Linked DNA regions of Homo sapiens: regions 1, 2 and 4 are each reported to be linked to region 3. Evidence: microRNA targets listed by miRTarBase, many of them from high-throughput screens and not tested one by one. Region 3 holds a microRNA gene; each other region holds the end of a gene's coding sequence. Distances are from middle to middle.

Region 1 (4,000 bases), not on the chromosome of region 3:
CTTGATTAATGTACTTTTAAGTTGGGGACTTGTTGATTGATTCTTCTATATAGTTTCTGATTTTCTGCTGAAATTCTCAATCTTGTGTTTTAGATCTTTAAACACACTAAACATAGTAATTTTAGACCCTGTGTTGTATAGCTCATTATCTGGGTCCCCTGTGGCTCTGTCCCATCATCTGTCGCTTCTTTCGGATTTTCATCATGTTGTCTTGTTTCCTCAGATACCTTAAATAACTTTCCAACACTAAACATGAAAAGTTATAAAAATAACTCAAAAGATCAGTCCAGAGAGGATTTACATTTGCTCTGGGTAGCGGCTGCAGCAAAGGGTCACCTGAATCCAGTTTTGGGAAGTGAGAAGATCCTAACTGCATCTGGTTTTTCTTCACCCTTACAATTTGGATATGGTCCTTGGGGTCACAACCCAATGTATGGTCAGTTAACTAGGATTCCTTTCCCCTCCCCTACTTCCTTGGAGAGTCTTGGTCTCCAGTTTTTGTCCCTCTAACTCAGCAGCAAGGCTGTTATAAGTGTTACTTAGCGTCTCAGACTCTCAACCACCTTATCCTGAATTGGCATGTCTCCTATAAGAAAAGCAGCCCAAATGCTGAGCTCAGGTCTCTAAGTTTCATTCTGTCTTAGATCTTAGTGATGTTATTCTTCACTGTCTTTTGGTTCTCTAATGCCTTTAAGCAGATTTTAAAATACTATTTTGCCTGGCATTGCTAGTTCTCTGAAATAGTTGGTATGAATGCACCACTAAAAGTTAGAAGTAGAAAAGTAGGTTTTAGGGAAAATTCAGTAACGTTAGTGTTAGTCCAAACTGCACCATTTTGTAAGCTCCCCGCTATTTTGCAGACCTTGATCAAAGTAAAACATTTCACAGGGGTTCGGGCAGTGAGAAACATGCTGCCTAACCACCTGACCACAAGGCGGAAAAAGGCCCAACCTAAGAAATATCCCTATCATATCTTGCTGGGCAAAGTTCCAAGGAATACTATGATGACATCCCACCACAACAAGGGCCAGAACCACCTCATCATGGGAGCATCTTATCAATATCCTGCCGAGCAGCAAGCCATACTGCCCAGACCCCTCTCACCCATGCCTATAAGTACGCCCAGCCTGTAAGCAGCGGTGGGCTCTGGCATTAAGCTGGTCCCCCACTTCTGTAGGTTTTATGCTAGACATAAAGTCTGCATTTGCTGTCAAGCTGCCCTCTGTGTGTCTTTCTTTAACTCTCACCTTCCCTTCAAAATCTAACAGTCAGTTTTTAATATACCAAGTGAAGATACCAAATAAGTGATATATATAGGTTCAGTGTAAGAAGAGAGGTTGGGTTAGGTACATATATTTGATCATCATCAATTTATTGATGATATTTCAAGTCTTGAAGTAGATGAGATTATCTATGGTGATTGCAGAAACACAAAGGGGGGCCTAGAATCAATTGTTGAGAAATTCTAAAATTTAGAGGTCAGGTAGAAGAGGAGAGGCAGCAAAGATGTTTGAGGAGTTGCTAGGAAGATAAGAAGAAAACAAAGATAATGTAGTGTCAGGAAAGTTCAAAAGAAAACACAAAAGCTGCTTCAAGGAATGGTCAAATGTGTCAATTACTACTAGCTGGTTTGACAATAAAAAGGTCAATAGTGACCTTAATAAAAACTTTTTTTTTTTTTAATTTGGGAGAGTCATGGAGATGGGATCCAGATTGGAATGATTTGACAAGTAAATGAAAGAGAAAACCTGGCTATGAATGAAATGGAGATATGGGAGCACTTTGAGGAGGATGCAAGGTTAAGCGAAGGCATAGCTTGACATTATTATCACAGTGAAAATCTCTAAACAACTTAAAATTCACATTATTTGGGGGACAGTAGTCCAATAAATAATATCTATCAATGGAATTTTATGCTGTCATTAAAAGTGATAATTATGGCTGGGCACGGTGGCTCACGCCTGTAATCCCAGCACTTTGGGAGGCTGAGGCGGGCGGAGCATGAGGTCAAGAGTTCGAGACCAGCCTGGCCAACATGGTGAAACTCTGTCTCTACTAAAAATACAAAAATTAGCCGGCGTGGTGGCATGCGCCTTTAATCCCAGCTACTCAGGAGGCTGAGCCAGGAGAATCGCTTGAACCCAGAAGGCGGAGGTTGCAGTGAGCTGAGATCGTGCCACTGCACCCCAGCCTGGGTGACAGAGCGAGATTCCATCTCGGAAAAAAAAAAAAGCTGATAATTACAAGTACTTTTAACGACATGAGAAAATATTTCTACATGACAAAGATATAAAGGTGTACAGCTAGCAAATCTCAATCATGTAAATTAAATCATAAGTCTGAGATGTAAACTCAGAGTAATACAAAATCCTATCTTAGTAACTGTACTATATTACCTCCAAAAAAAGAATAACATACAAATCTCTTGAATTCATTAACTGAAAATTGGTCCAAAAAGTTTATCCTTTAACATTGTTAGAGTGAACTCGTCCACATACTAAATAAATGGAATACTAATAACAACTTAACTGGTACATTTCATATAATTTGAATGATTTCTAAGGAGAATACATTATTATAAATCTAGGGGGCTCCTACTGATTTCATTGGAAATTAAGTAAGAATTAGAGGAAACTGATCTCTCAACTGATGTGGATTCATTATTAATCCCCCTTACATGTATCTGTAAAACGTTCCTAAGCAAGAAGAGAATGAAAATAAAATTCAGATCGTATTATAAAAATTTTCTTCCATCTCCTTCTGACTTTAGTTCATATACCTTAAGACACTAGTAACTGGTAGTCCTGTTGGGTAAATCATTTTTCAGAAGCAGTAAATTCAGTTGAAAGAAATACATAATGAGTCAGATATATGCTTTAGTAGTCATATGCAGATTACCCTAACATTGCTCTTCCTGTGAATATTCACATGATGAATGGGATGAACCCCGCTCCTTTCACATATATTAGAAGGATATTTGAAAAGGAAGGAAAATATTTTATTAAAAGTTTTTTAAAGTTTATGAATTGAAGTCTATGAAAACAAACTACTTGATACAAAAACATTCAGATATTAGATGTCAAAATAAATCAGCACATTTGAAAATACTATAAATTATATTTCAAACAAATATATACACATTATGTTAACCTTCAACAGGATCCATTATCACTACTTAGAACACTGATATGTTTATCTCTTAAGTATGTAAAAATTACATAGCTGTTAACTTTGTATGGCAATTCACCTATAACACATTTAAGAAAGCATTACAAAATTCATTATATGATAATTCTACAAAAGTTTTCTCACATTTACCAAAGCCTACTAAAGTCCAGAGGGCACAAATATTGGCCAAATAGTTCTTTTATCTTAGACATAAAGATGTTTTTGCTGTTTTTTAGAACCATTAAGATGGCTAAGAGAACCAACTTTACGGAGCTTAGCTGTTCTCAGGCATCTGAATGGGGGTGTGGAGAAGTCCTCAAGTTACAAGAATCACAGTTACTTTTTTAGGATGAAAAAATAAAAACATTGCATTTGATGACATTACAGTCAAAATGAGCTCTAATACAAATGTATGTGGAGAGGTTTTGAAGAATAAATCGGATATCCCAGGGGAGGTTCTGCTGCTTGTACCGTAAGATTTCTTAAAAGTAGTGGATGAGCTTGTATACTATAACGTTCTTCATCATCGTTTGTGGCATAAAGTAATTCCCATGAAAGATTGGCCCACTGACCTCTAACAGCTTCAGGATTTAACTTTCCCACTTGGATCAATAATTCTTGAAGGCTAAGCACTCTCCCAGTGTAAATTCCCTTTAAAGTAAAAAGGGTAGGAGGAGGAGAAAAAGAAAAGAGATTCCATTTAGGTCTTTATATTTTATTCATAAACTTAGAGAAAAATTGCATTGTAATTAGGCAAACTTTTCCCAAGTTCAAAAAACAGAAAGTAGTGTTTAAAAATGTACACAAGTTGCCTGTATTCAGAATCAAGAAT
Region 2 (4,000 bases), not on the chromosome of region 3:
ACTGAAACCTCTGCCTCCCGGGTTCAAGCGATTCTCCTGCCTCAGTCTCTGAGTAGCTGGGATTACAGGCGCCCGCCACCACACCCGCCTAGTTTTTGTATTTTTAGTAGAGACGGTTTTACCATGTTGGTTAGGCTCGTGTTTGAACTCCTGACCTCAGGTGATCCATCTGCCTCGGCCTCCCAAAGTGCTGGGATTATAGGCGTGAGCCACCGCACCAGGCCTCAAACTAATTTTTAGTCTTGGTTTTTTCACCCCTTTACGTATCTTGGTTTTATCTGGCTTACAGACTTTAGTCAATTCTGAATTAGGAAAGAGTTCTTGTTTGATATGACCAAACCTTTCCAACTGGAGACTGGGGAGTTGTGGAGAGGCTCTTATAAACTGAAACATAAGAAACCATCATTATTCTTACAATTCTACTGAATTGTAAACATTACTGAAGTAGTATCACTAAAGGACTGAGCTGAACCAGGTTACAGGGTGGTATCCAGGAGTTTGAGATCACAGCTTCCATTAAGAGGATCATAGCTTCCACTCCTAAACCCTGCCCAATAATCTCACAGAAGCCAGGTGCAATGGCTCACGCCTATAATCCCAGCACTTTGGGAGGCTGAGGCAGGCGGATCACTTGATGCCAGGAGTTTGAGACCAGCCTGGGCAATATAGCGAAAGCTTGTCTCTACAAAAATTACCTAGGCGTGGTGGCGTGCGCCTGTAGTCCCAGCTATTCAGGAGGCGGAGGTGGGAAGATGGCTTGAGCCCAGTGGCAGTTGCAGTGAGCCGAGATCACGTCACTGCACTCCAGCCTGGGAGACAAAGCAAGACCCTGCCAATAAAAAGACTGCTGAGTGAGTGTTCATTCTTCCAGCATCTACTAAACACCTGCCCTAACATGGGCATGTGGAAGTTCCAGCATCCCAGAGACCTTCACACATTACAGCTCTTCACAGGGCGGGTAGTTGAGCAGTTTGAGGGAAAGCAGATTCTAGCCCCCTCAGCTGGGGAGGTTTCCCAGTGTCCTAAACCTTGGCCTCCTGCTTCTCTTTAGTGGCCCTGCTCCTGCTTAACACAGTAGTGCTTGTCACATGTTAGTCGCTGCCATGGATTTCTCAGGTTTTCAACATCATAACTACACTCCAATTCTCTGCACCCCTTTGGCAGGTGAGGCCAATAGAAAAATAACAGCACAGTTGAGTTTAAAAATGTAGTTTGTAGCAGGTGGACAGGTAAAGAGCTGGGTTAAATGACACCTCCACCTATCCTAGCTGTATGAGAATAAAAAAACTCCGAATCCTTCCTGAGAGGATTGAGCTGGCTAACCCTATGAAGTACATGGTGTCTAATGCCTGCCCCCAAGGTTTAATACAATATTTAAGACTTGCCTTTTGAAGTTCCCCACTGTCAACCTCCCCAGTTCTCCACCCATCTTCCCATGTGAGCTCTGCCTTAGCCACGCAATGGCCAGTCCTCCCTACAATGAGTCCATTTCCTTTATTCTCAATTTAAATTCAAAGTGGGGAAAAAGTGCACTTAAGAATGAATCATCCATTTTATTTTATTTTGTCATGTGCTCAACAGCATCTCTCTCTCTCTCCCCTCTCCCTGGCAGGTCACAGAGATAAATTAAAAATAAAATCTACAAGGAAAATAATTTATAAAAGCACTCCCAGGTTCACACCTTCTATCCCTACTGCTCAGTTAGGCACCCCCTAACTGGGAATCAGTGCTTCCCCCCACCCCCATTTCACTCCCACTTGTCTGGGGCAGACGGTACTCCAGAGCCGGGCAGGGGTGAGGGCAGCAGTGGCAAACAGTTAAAAATAAAGACATTGTAGTCCTGGAACCATCTGGCCACCTTGGCACTCCCATGTCTGCCTCCCCCAGGCAGCCCTCCAGGAGCCTGTGCGAAGCTGGGGCTGTGGAGAAGCTGCCTGTGGCTGAGAGCTTGTGTGTTTGGGGAGGTGCTCTCAGCCTGTCATATGCACTTCTCAATCTTCTAGAAAGAAACCCAAAAAAGAAAGCAGACGACGACCTCGGGACAGAGGAGAAAAATCCCAAGTGTTCACACAGTTACACGGAGTCTTTATGGCAAAGAGAACATTTAGCAGCTTTGAATATTGGGCATCTCCTTTTTACTCAACACAAGCATTCTAGACCCTATAAGTGAAACAGGGCACAAGCCCTAAAAAAATCAAAGCGCAAGAAATTCTAAGAGGACTAGTTCTTTTGTTGTTGCTGGGTTGTGTAATTTTTTGTGTTTTCCCAGTGATAAGCCCAGTTGTTGGTAGGCAGAGGCCCGAGGGAAGGGTGACTCCCCAGTGTTGTGCTGAATCCTGCCTGGAGGCTGCTACACTAGATTCTCCATCATTCCTCTGCCTCACAGCAGTCCCAGAAGAGGAAGGCTGCAGGCCCAGTTCCCGGAGCACTGCCATCACCCTACCCCAGCTTACAGAAGAGCTCAGGCAGTCTGTGAGGGGTGGGGAACACAAACACCGGACCAGGGGAGGACGGCATACACATGCAGGCTCTGATGGAGACAATGGGAGCCTCAGCTCAGGGGTGGCTGGAGCACGGAGGGAGATGGAGTGGCAAGGCAGTGAATGACATGCGTGATGTTGGGGCTGTTGCAACATGGGACCACGTGACCCTTTCCTGTTCACTCTACCCTTTGACTCTAAATCTCAAAGCCAGTGTTGGGGCCCAGTGGCTCCATTCGATTGAAACATGGCCAATGATATCCAAGAGCTCCCCTTCAGGGATGTCAAAATGCAAGGAGCAGAAAGAGTTAACACCGTCCCTCCCCACCCCCACCCTGTGTCTGTGTACCCCACCCCCCCCGGGGTGAAAATTGGGGTTTATCACACCAGTGATCTAGGCCCACCAGTCACTCCAACCTGCTGCCTGGAATCCTGGCCAGAGCCAACCTTAACCTTCCCTCTGATTTTCTTCCCGCTTTGATTTTTTTTTCGGGGGGGGGGGGGTTCCTTCCTTCCTTCCTTCTATCCCTCCTTCCTGAAATGAGACTTTCTGCCACCTTCCCTTCCTCTCACAGGTCCATTCCTTCCCCTCTGTCGGCCTTTGCTCCACATAGCTCCTCTACCTCCAGCAACTCCACCACCACCCCTGCCTCACAGGAAAGGGGTAGGGTGAGGACCCTGTCCGTCTAAATGGTCTGGCCACTTCCACTCCACCCGAGTGGAGCTGAGCCAGCCAGTGCCTGCCTCTTCCTGTACACTGACCCGCAGTCATCCCATCTGAGAAGATATATTGGATAAGAAGGCATTTAAGTCCCCGCTGTAGGTCCAGGTCCAGGTCCAGGTCCAGCCCTTCTCCAGTTTCGGTCTTGGTGGGCTTCAAACCCCCTTCTTCCCCAGGCTCACTTTCTCCGGTCCTTTGGCTTCCTCTCCTGCCGCCGGGCCTGCTGGTCGGCCATCGTGCGGGGGATGAGGAGGACACTGCCGTCCCCGGCGTACTGGAGCGCATACTGACTGGGCGAGTAGGGTCGTCCGTTCTCATCTCGCAGCCGCCCAAACACCTCCTGGTACAGGCTCTGGACCTTCTGCTTCATCTGTCGCAGGGAGCGCAGGAACTCCACTTTCTCCCGCAGCAGCCGGGCTTTGTCACGCTGCAGGTCCTCCACATCACGCTCCAGATTCAGGATGGTGTCCAGCTTGCGCTTGCGGCAGTTCTGCGCCGCCATCTTGTTCTTGCCCCGGCGCCGGATGTCTCGGATGAGGCTCAGCTGGGCTTCACTCAACTGGTATTTGGACAGCAGTTCATTGAACTCCTCCACAGGCAGGTTGATGATTTTGTCATTGGTGAAAGGGATCTTCATGGCTCGGGCTCGGTGCTCATCCCGGCTCATCTGCTTGTCCAGGAAGTCAGCCTGCTTCTCCTTGCTGCCTTTCTTGAGGGCACTGGGTGGTGGCAGGTCGGCTGAGTCCAGGGCACTGGGTGCCATGTTGTATGTGTGGTTGTGGCCCACGTGCTCCAGGTA
Region 3 (4,152 bases):
AAAACTTATAGAAAAAGACCTTGATGAAAAATACTGTCATATTCTTTGGATGAATGTTGCAATTAACTCCTTTTAGATCATAACTTGACTGTACAGATTGTGCAAGATTGTTTTCTGGGAACAGCTGTATATGAAATGTTGATTCTCAGGGAGACACCTAGACACCTGAATTGCAGCAGACATTTTATGGTGTTGCTAAGTTGCTGGTCCTTCTCATCAGTAGCAGGCCTACTCTCACTGTCACATATCTCCCACGGTTTTTTTTTTTTTTTTTTTTTTTTTTTTTGTAATTAACCAAAAGTGAAGGCTTTTATATCAAAGACTCAATTGAGGAAGCAGTGGCCTTAGTCATTATTGGCATAATTGCTTTAGTTTGCTTATGGATCTTAAAACGTTTATGACTATATCTGCAAGTAAAAAAAAAATTCAATAATTAAAAACCTAAACATATCGAGTGTTTATTTTCTCTTTTTGCAAAGGTATATTCTAAACTCAATGTTCTTCGGGAAATTTTCCAATTAAGGCTCTGAGTATTGATATTTGGGATTTAGAGAATGGCTTTCTATGACCAGAATGGTTAGTGATGAGATTTTATGTAAGTAGGACTGGGTTTTTCAGGGGGCCTTGTGTAACTTGCCATCAAGAGTTGGGAAAGGAGGCCCTGAGCAGTGCAGCAGAGCTATGTAAAGTGAGAGTTTGGGTCTTGGGACCAGGTAGCCTGGGCTCAAATCTGCTCTCACACTTAGCAATGTGGTCTTGAGCATGATTCTTCACTTCCCCAGGACTCTGTTTTCTCTTATGTAAAATAGGAATAATATTTATTTTCAATGATGGGGGTAAAAAGTACTTAAAGGGACTAATTATGTAAATTGCTTAGAACAGGCCTGGAATATACAGCTAAATGCTGTGTCAACTGTTGTTGCTGATAATGGTGTTGACTATGACAAGTATTAAAAGAAGAGATTTGACTAGAGGTACTTATATTTTGAATGATCAGTGACGATGTTAGGGTTGAGAAAGAAAAACAGTAACTGACTTGAAGGTTTTCAATGGTATGTAAGTGTGAGGTCATTTCACCTTTTATTTCTCTGCCAGGTAGAGTGGGAAACCAAATTAATCACTCCATGATCTAGTGACTAATCTATTGCCTTTGCTTTTAGTTCCAAATAGAAAGCTGTTGAAAAGTTGTTGTATTACACCTGCATAAAGGTTATCCTGAAAACAGAAAAATGCATTAGACTTTGTCAAAACTGGATTTGAAACCTAATTCAACTGCTTGCTGGCTGTGTGACTTAAACTTGTTGAACTTCAGTTTCTTCCTCTAATATAACTATTAATTTTCAGAGTTTCCATGAAGATATTTGTAAAGTGTTTGTCATAGGCACTCTATACATTAATTACAGCTATTATTGTTAGATCTTGGGACACCCAGCACGTGACAAAAACAACAGCAGACCCTGGTGCCTGGGAGGACTTCATGGATCCAGCAGCAACCTGGAGTGGTGCTCCTCTGAAGAAATCCTACTCGGATGGATATAATACAACCTGCTAAGTGTCCTAGCACTTAGCAGGTTGTATTATCATTGTCCGTGTCTATGGCTCTCGTCTACCAGACTTTAAATTCCTTAAGGGCAAGGACAGTGCCTTACTCATCTTTGTATTCACAGTGCCTAATCCGGTGCACATTGTAGGCCTCATTAAATGTTTGTTGAATGAAAAAATGAATCATCAACAGACATTAATTGGGCGCCTGCTCTGTGATCTCCATGGGCTCAGCTTGTCCCCGCCAGTTGCCAACAACGTCCAAGCTCTCTTCAGAATGCTTACTCCTGAAGCTTATTCCTGTCTTCTAATTCTTTTGTTGAGGACTTTTCTGTGTAGTGCAATGATAGCAAATACACTTCATCTCAAGTACCATCTCCAATTGATTGATAATGCCTGCCCTGATTATGTTTTATAACAAGATTCTGAAACCAGGTCTTATCTCAGTGTGAAAGACATTTATAACTATTTAGTGATGTCTGCTGAGGGTCGGAGAAGGGGGAGTAGCAGCACAAGTGCCTCATATGTCATATTTGCTACTCTGTTTTCTATGAAATACTTCATTTCTATGCCTGCATTTTGGTCTTAGCTACTTGCTGATGTTGCATGGCTGTTGCTGCTACTGTAATTGCTGCTAATTGCTCCCTGGGTTGGACCAGAGTGCTCATTGTCTGAACAGAAACCTCATCCTCACAGTCTGAGGTTTGCTCCTGTGGCTGATATTTAAAGTTTTCCCCTTTCAACTTTACTCCAGCTATCCCCTTACCTGCACTGACAGGTAATCCTCCACCGTCCTGTTCACCTCTCACCAGGTTCATATTTTCTTTATCTTATTTATTGTACTTAATCATTATTTTGTGAGAAGCTTTTCTGATTGTAGATGTGACAACCAGAATACAAGTTAAAACCACTTATCCAGCGCCTTACAGTGAATCATTTAACATGAGAAAAAAATTGAGTGTGTTTGCAGACCATGGGGCAGAAGGAATTGAGAAGGGAGTCATTGTAGATGTGAGAAAGAGAGAGATGATAATAGATGGAAGATGATCTTGAAAGATGATGCAGGTGAAGCTGGAAGGGTGAAATTTATGGCTCTAGAACACATGCAGGTGGAGGGTTAGCCTTAGGTAAGTGGAACTACCTCTTTGCTGGAGCACAGAGATAGGGATAGGAGTAAGGAAGAGGACTTGGCAAGGGTGGTGAAGATTTGTAATTGTAGAGGTGGATGATGGGGAGGAAGCTGACCAGGAACAGGAATATGAAGACAAAAGCTGCTGGAACAGAAATACTAGAGGGCTAAATATGAACCAGAGTCCCTAAGGAATATTCAGGCCAAAACGCTGGAGTGAGACCATTAACAGGAGAGCTTATGGTATATCAAAGTAAGAAATGAGTTTGAAACTGGGTTAGAAGCTCAGGAAAATATGAAGTGGTTTTGGGGCATTGTCACTAGCAGTATTTGGTTGCCTTGATTGATTGAGGGGTGGACAGCTAGCAAGAGACGAGTTACACAGAAATGGATTTAAGAATCCAAACTAAGGCCGGGCGCGGTGGCCCACACCTGTAATCACAGCACTTTGGAAGGCCAAGGTGGGCAGGTCACCTGAGGTCAGGAGTTCGAGACCAGCCTGACCAACATGGTGAAACCCTGTCTCTACTAAAAATGCAAAAATTAGCCAGGTGTGGTGGCACATGCCTGTAATCCCAGCTACTCAGGAGGCTGAGGCAGGAGAATCACTTGAACCCAGGAGGCGGAGGTTGCAGTGAGCCGAGATCCCACCCACTGTACTCCAGCCTGGGTAACAGAGTGAGACTTCATTTAAAAAAAAAAATCCAACCTGGACATGGAAGGAAGTAAGGTCAGGAGTGGCCTCAGTCTGGGCCAAAAAGAGGCTTTAATGTGAACAAGGTGAGTGCTGAGTAATTGGAAAACTGGAGTGATAGGACCTGTAATCAGAGTAGACTTTGGAGTGTTAGATTTCAAAACTGGAGTGGTTAAGATACCTGTGAAGCTAGGATGTCAGATGATCATTTACATGACTATTATAGTAACCCAGGATTATAGTAGAAGCTAGGCTTAGAATGAACACTGGGCCAGGTACAAAAGGCTTCAGTGACTGTGAGGAATGACTTGGAGGTTGGCACATGTTAACTGCAAATACTAGAGAAGAAAGGCTGTAGTGGGATAGTAGATGAGCCTTAGAAGAGTGGGGGGATCCAGGTGATTCCTTCTTTTATTGAGTATTTGCTCTATGCCTGACACCTTGCTATATGCCATCTGTTCCCTCTTTTGGGTCTGTCACACTTCAGGAGTGGGAGAATGCGCAAGAATTCCTGGTGAGAACAGCTAGGGGAGCTGTTGGCCTTTAGCACTGCTGGAATCCTGTGGCCGTCTCCTAACTCTTTCAAAGAGCTGCAGGCTGGTCAGCTTGAAGTGGCATAAAAAGATTTATTTAGGATCTAAATTTTTCCTTGATCTTGACCTAAGTTAGTTACATGTTACAAGCATTTGTTGGCCATGTTCCATAATGTACTTTGGCTTCTGAGCCTCTGAGTTGAAGAGTGAGCTAGTGCTGCTCTTAAAAAACAACAACAAAAACAAAAAACCAG
Region 4 (4,000 bases), 62 Mb from region 3:
TTTTGTGTTTTTAGTAGAGACGGGGTTTCACTGTGTTAGCCAGGATGTTCTCGATCTCCTGACCTCGTGACCACCTGCCTCGGCCTCCCAAAGTGCTGGGATTACAGGCGTGAACCACAGTGCCCAGCCTATAATCTGTTGTTTTTAATAGTTTGTTTGAACAACAGAAAAATGTAGAAACATTCATGGGCTTTTTTTTTTCCGCCCCCAACAGAAGTGTTTATATAACCAGACTGCCACCTAGTGGAGTGTAGGTTCTGTTTCCATTTGTACACCTGATGATGGTGAAGGCATTCAGATAAGTAGTAATTCACATAGAAGCTGGATAAGTGCAGTGAAAATAATCAGTATAGAGAGATCAAAATTATAGTCATTTTTTTCTTCCTAATACCAAAAAACAGTTGAAATGTTAGTAGGTTGAAAGTCAATATTTTGCTTGATGGTATTTAGTCCTTAGTATGGTGCTCATTGGGGCTATTTTTTTTTTCCAGGTTTTTAGCAGAATACCACGATGACTTCTTCCCAGAGTCGGCTTATGTCGCTGCCTGTGAGGCACATTACAGCACCAAGAACCCCCGGGCAATTTATTAAAATGTTGTTGGTTCTGTAAGAGCAACTGCTCTGTCTAGTTTGGCGCTCTGGGTTCCAGGTGAATAACTAACAAGGTGGTGGGTCTTTACCCACAGCGCAAACACAATGCCCACCTTGGGGCTCTGTTGTTTGAGTTGCCCACATACTGCAGTTATTCTGTTAGGAATGATTCCCTGGGTGCCTGAAAGTGCTCTGACACGACACTTGTTACTTTGCAGGCCATCTGTGATGGCAAGGAAAAAGCAACTATGTTCACAGTGAAATATTCGTGGAATAGGTTAGGCCATTTCAGTAGACATTGCAGTTAGTTAGCAAGAACCACATTGTCTCTTTATTTGTTAGCATTAAACAAATTTTTTTTTGCAAATTGGTTTTATTTTTTTGATGAAGCCGAGCAACTCTGTCCAAAAAGGTTTAGTTTGTACTCGGAAACCACAAAGTAGTCTCAAAGTATTTTAGAGGGAATCGATATTGATGGCAAAAGAAAATTTGCAGCTATGCATTTGCTTCTAACGGTTCCCTCTCTGTGAAACATTATTTTTGGTGATCTAAAGAAAGCATTGCCTTTCTTATTTGAGATTTTACAGCTATACTTTGTTGTGTAATGTTATGGTTCCCTTTCTGTAAAATGTTATTTTTGGTGATCTAAATAAAGCCTGTCTTGTTTGAAAGAACCAGGAGAGAGAGTTTTCACTCTGGCCTTGTCCTCTTTAATGCAGGGTAACAGTGGGGTAACCTTTTGACTCATAACTTTAGGTTTCATTTTGTTTTTCCTTTGTGCCTTTTTTTGTTAAATCCCTCTTTGGTTTTGCCTCACTTGGCAGCAGGACCAGACAGTGGTTCCTAGAAGTTCCTGCAGTTCTGTGCTGTCTTGTTGCTGCATTGTGGTCTCATCTGGGGCTAACACCAGCTTATCCTCCTCCTCCCTCATTACCAACTGACAGTCTCTGCAGTCACTCCTCTAATCCTTATTTTAGTCGCACATGCCTCCCCTATCTTCAGATGTTTTAGAAAGTTCTAACTTCGTAGAAATGGTATCAGTACCATACCAGCATTGAATATAGCACCTGCCTTGTAACTCAACTCAGCAGACCTTAACTTCCAAAGATCACTGGTTGTGAACAAGGGCCACAAAGATTTTTTAAAAATCTGTAGATGGTTTCATCAAAGTGACTTATGCATACACTGACCAATGAGAATTAATACTGTGCACTTAGTTGCTAAGTTAGACGTGGGTTTTGGTGTCTCATCCGGAGTAGTACTCAGGTTCCTGGTAGCTTTTATCTCCATTTGGTTTATGCAATGCTTGTTTGAATCTGGCGCACCTGCAGTGTGCTCTGAATTGCTTAAAAAGCTGAATCAGTAATTACTTATGGCCAGGAAAAGGAAAAAGATTTTCCTTTGTAAGACTCAACTTGTTTAAATGTCTCCAATGAAGTGAGCACAGACATTTATATAGGCACATACCTTGAGTTTACAGTTAATTCATTTTCTAATAATGAACAATTATTTTCTTCCCCTGAAGGCATTTCTTAAATATAACTTCAAAAGTTGATGATGTGGCCGGGCGCAGTGGCTCACGCCTGTAATCCCAGCACTTTGGGAGGCTGAGACAGGCGGATCATGAGGTCAGGAGATCGAGATCATCCTGGCTAACATGGTGAAACCTCGTCTTTACTGAAAATACAAAATAATTAGCCGGGCGTGGTGGCGGGCGCCTGTAGTCCCAGCTACTCGGGAGGCTGAGGCAGGAGAATGGTGTGAACCCAGGAGGTGGAGCTTGCAGTGAGCTGAGATGGCGCCACTGCACTCCAGCCTGGGCAACAGAGCGAGACTCCGTCTCAAAAAAAGAAATAAAAACAGTTGATGCTGTGCAGCTTTGGTTGATTTAAGTACTAATTTTTCATCAAAACATCTAACCCTCTATTGTTTATTACTAATAATTCAAAATATTCCTCAGATAAAAATATTTAAATGTCTATATAATCCTTATACAAATTACAAATTATCTTCCTTTTGTTAATTTTTAAATTGTTACTTTCTTAAACTGCCAAACCTTACAGTTGTTAAGTCTTATATTCATTGTCAATGTTTTCCTTTTAGTAGTAATTTAAAGGCATGTTGAAAACAATATTTCAATAATTTCTGTATCAGACCCTTGTACTAGATCTTTGACAAAAACTTGTGAGAACAAAAAAACCATTTCTGAGCAGAAATGGAATATATAAATCATTCCAGGGTATGACGTACACTAAAGAAGCCAAAGAAAACTTATCAATTTATAAAAGTTGCTGTCTCTCATTAGATATTGTCAACTCAAAAATTTGAACAAGTATAATGACCCTGTTTTGCAGTTAAAAAGATAGTTCAATAGCCTTTGCCCTTTAAGATTTGGCTTGTCAACAGTTAAGTTTTTCTGAGCAGTTATTGACTACTTATTCTGCTGCCAGAAACTACTAGGTATTGGAAACGGGAAGAAATAAGGCATGGTCCTTGTTGGAATACAGTTAAGATAATTTTTACAGGCACTGACCATCATTTTTACTAAATCAAGTTTGGTATTAAGGAAGTGTGTTACTTTAATCAGTTCATAATATACAAAAGTGTAATGTAACCCATAAAGGTCAGCATTTTCCAAAATTAACCCTTCCATTGTCCCAAAAATAAAGTATGCTTCTATTAACTGGTTTTCAGTGCAGAGGGTTTGATCATTGAATGTTTTCATCAGTTATGAAATCTGGCCAAGATGGTGTTAAGGAACTTGATATACACTTGGGTAAAGGGGTTTCAATAGATTAAGTTGAAAGCAATAACTTGGAAATCATGTTTATACTCCAAAGAAGCAAGAAACTCCTCAATAAACTAGTTAAATCTTTTGAACTGGATGACTTTAGTGTGTATTTGTTTTTATGTTATTCTGGTCAAAAGACCAAGTGCTTCTCTGGAATCCACCTTCTAAACTCAACATGAGTTTATCGATGGCTATTTCTTGCCTTCAGCCTTCCCTCCGGTGTAAATTATGGGATATCTAACCAATGAGCAGAATACAAGTCCCCAGCAAATTGTCTCAGGGCCTGGGATGTACCTAGCCAGCACCACTCCCTTTGCATGGTGACAGGCACAGCAACTGGGAGGCTATCCCACATCATATCCAGAATGGACATGTTGCCAACATGCATCATACGTGGAAAATACATGTGTTAGATCTTTCATCACACAGTGAGGAATGCAATTACTAGAAATGGGTGAATAAGCAAGAGTTCACATGTAGTTGAACAGTTGGGTTGCTGGAAATCAGGAGACCTTTCCTACAGGATGATGCTTCTCCTGCTTTGATGGGCAGTCTTGCTAGAATGTGGGTTCTGAGTCAGCCGGCCTGAACTGCTAGTGAGCTCCCAGTCATGCTGAG

The links. Region 3 holds the annotated microRNA hsa-miR-421 (AUCAACAGACAUUAAUUGGGCGC, at 1,728-1,750, shown strand). A microRNA usually pairs through its seed, bases 2 to 8, with sites in the 3' UTR of a target mRNA and lowers its output. Matches are read on the target gene's strand: a 7mer-m8 pairs with bases 2 to 8, a 7mer-A1 pairs with bases 2 to 7 and ends in A, and an 8mer does both.
Region 1: the mRNA of PCNX4 is a reported target of hsa-miR-421. Seed matches in the 3' UTR shown: 8mer at 3,152-3,159.
Region 2: the mRNA of NFE2L1 is a reported target of hsa-miR-421. Seed matches in the 3' UTR shown: 7mer-m8 at 1,575-1,581.
Region 4: the mRNA of MSL3 is a reported target of hsa-miR-421. The part of its 3' UTR that is shown has no 7-base or 8-base seed match.

The regions. Positions count from the first base shown.
Region 1 is chr14:60,133,789-60,137,788 of GRCh38, reverse strand. PCNX4 (pecanex 4) reads right to left here. Exons shown (of 11, transcript NM_001330177.2): 11 at 1-3,819. The coding sequence ends at 3,568. Among named protein-coding and RNA genes, the nearest start is that of DHRS7, 30 kb to the left of the region's middle.
Region 2 is chr17:48,059,021-48,063,020 of GRCh38, reverse strand. It overlaps NFE2L1 (NFE2 like bZIP transcription factor 1), which reads right to left. Exons shown (of 6, transcript NM_003204.3): 6 at 1,476-4,000. The coding sequence ends at 3,380. Among named protein-coding and RNA genes, the nearest start is that of NFE2L1, 13 kb to the right of the region's middle.
Region 3 is chrX:74,215,990-74,220,141 of GRCh38, reverse strand. MIR421 (microRNA 421) reads left to right here and starts at 1,681; the gene lies at 1,681-1,765. The region is part of intron 5 of FTX (FTX transcript, XIST regulator); the gene reads left to right. MIR374B (microRNA 374b) reads left to right here and starts at 1,524; the gene lies at 1,524-1,595. It overlaps MIR374C (microRNA 374c), which reads right to left and starts at 1,593; the gene lies at 1,524-1,593.
Region 4 is chrX:11,774,489-11,778,488 of GRCh38, forward strand. It overlaps MSL3 (MSL complex subunit 3), which reads left to right. Exons shown (of 13, transcript NM_078629.4): 13 at 492-1,284. The coding sequence ends at 591. Among named protein-coding and RNA genes, the nearest start is that of MSL3, 18 kb to the left of the region's middle.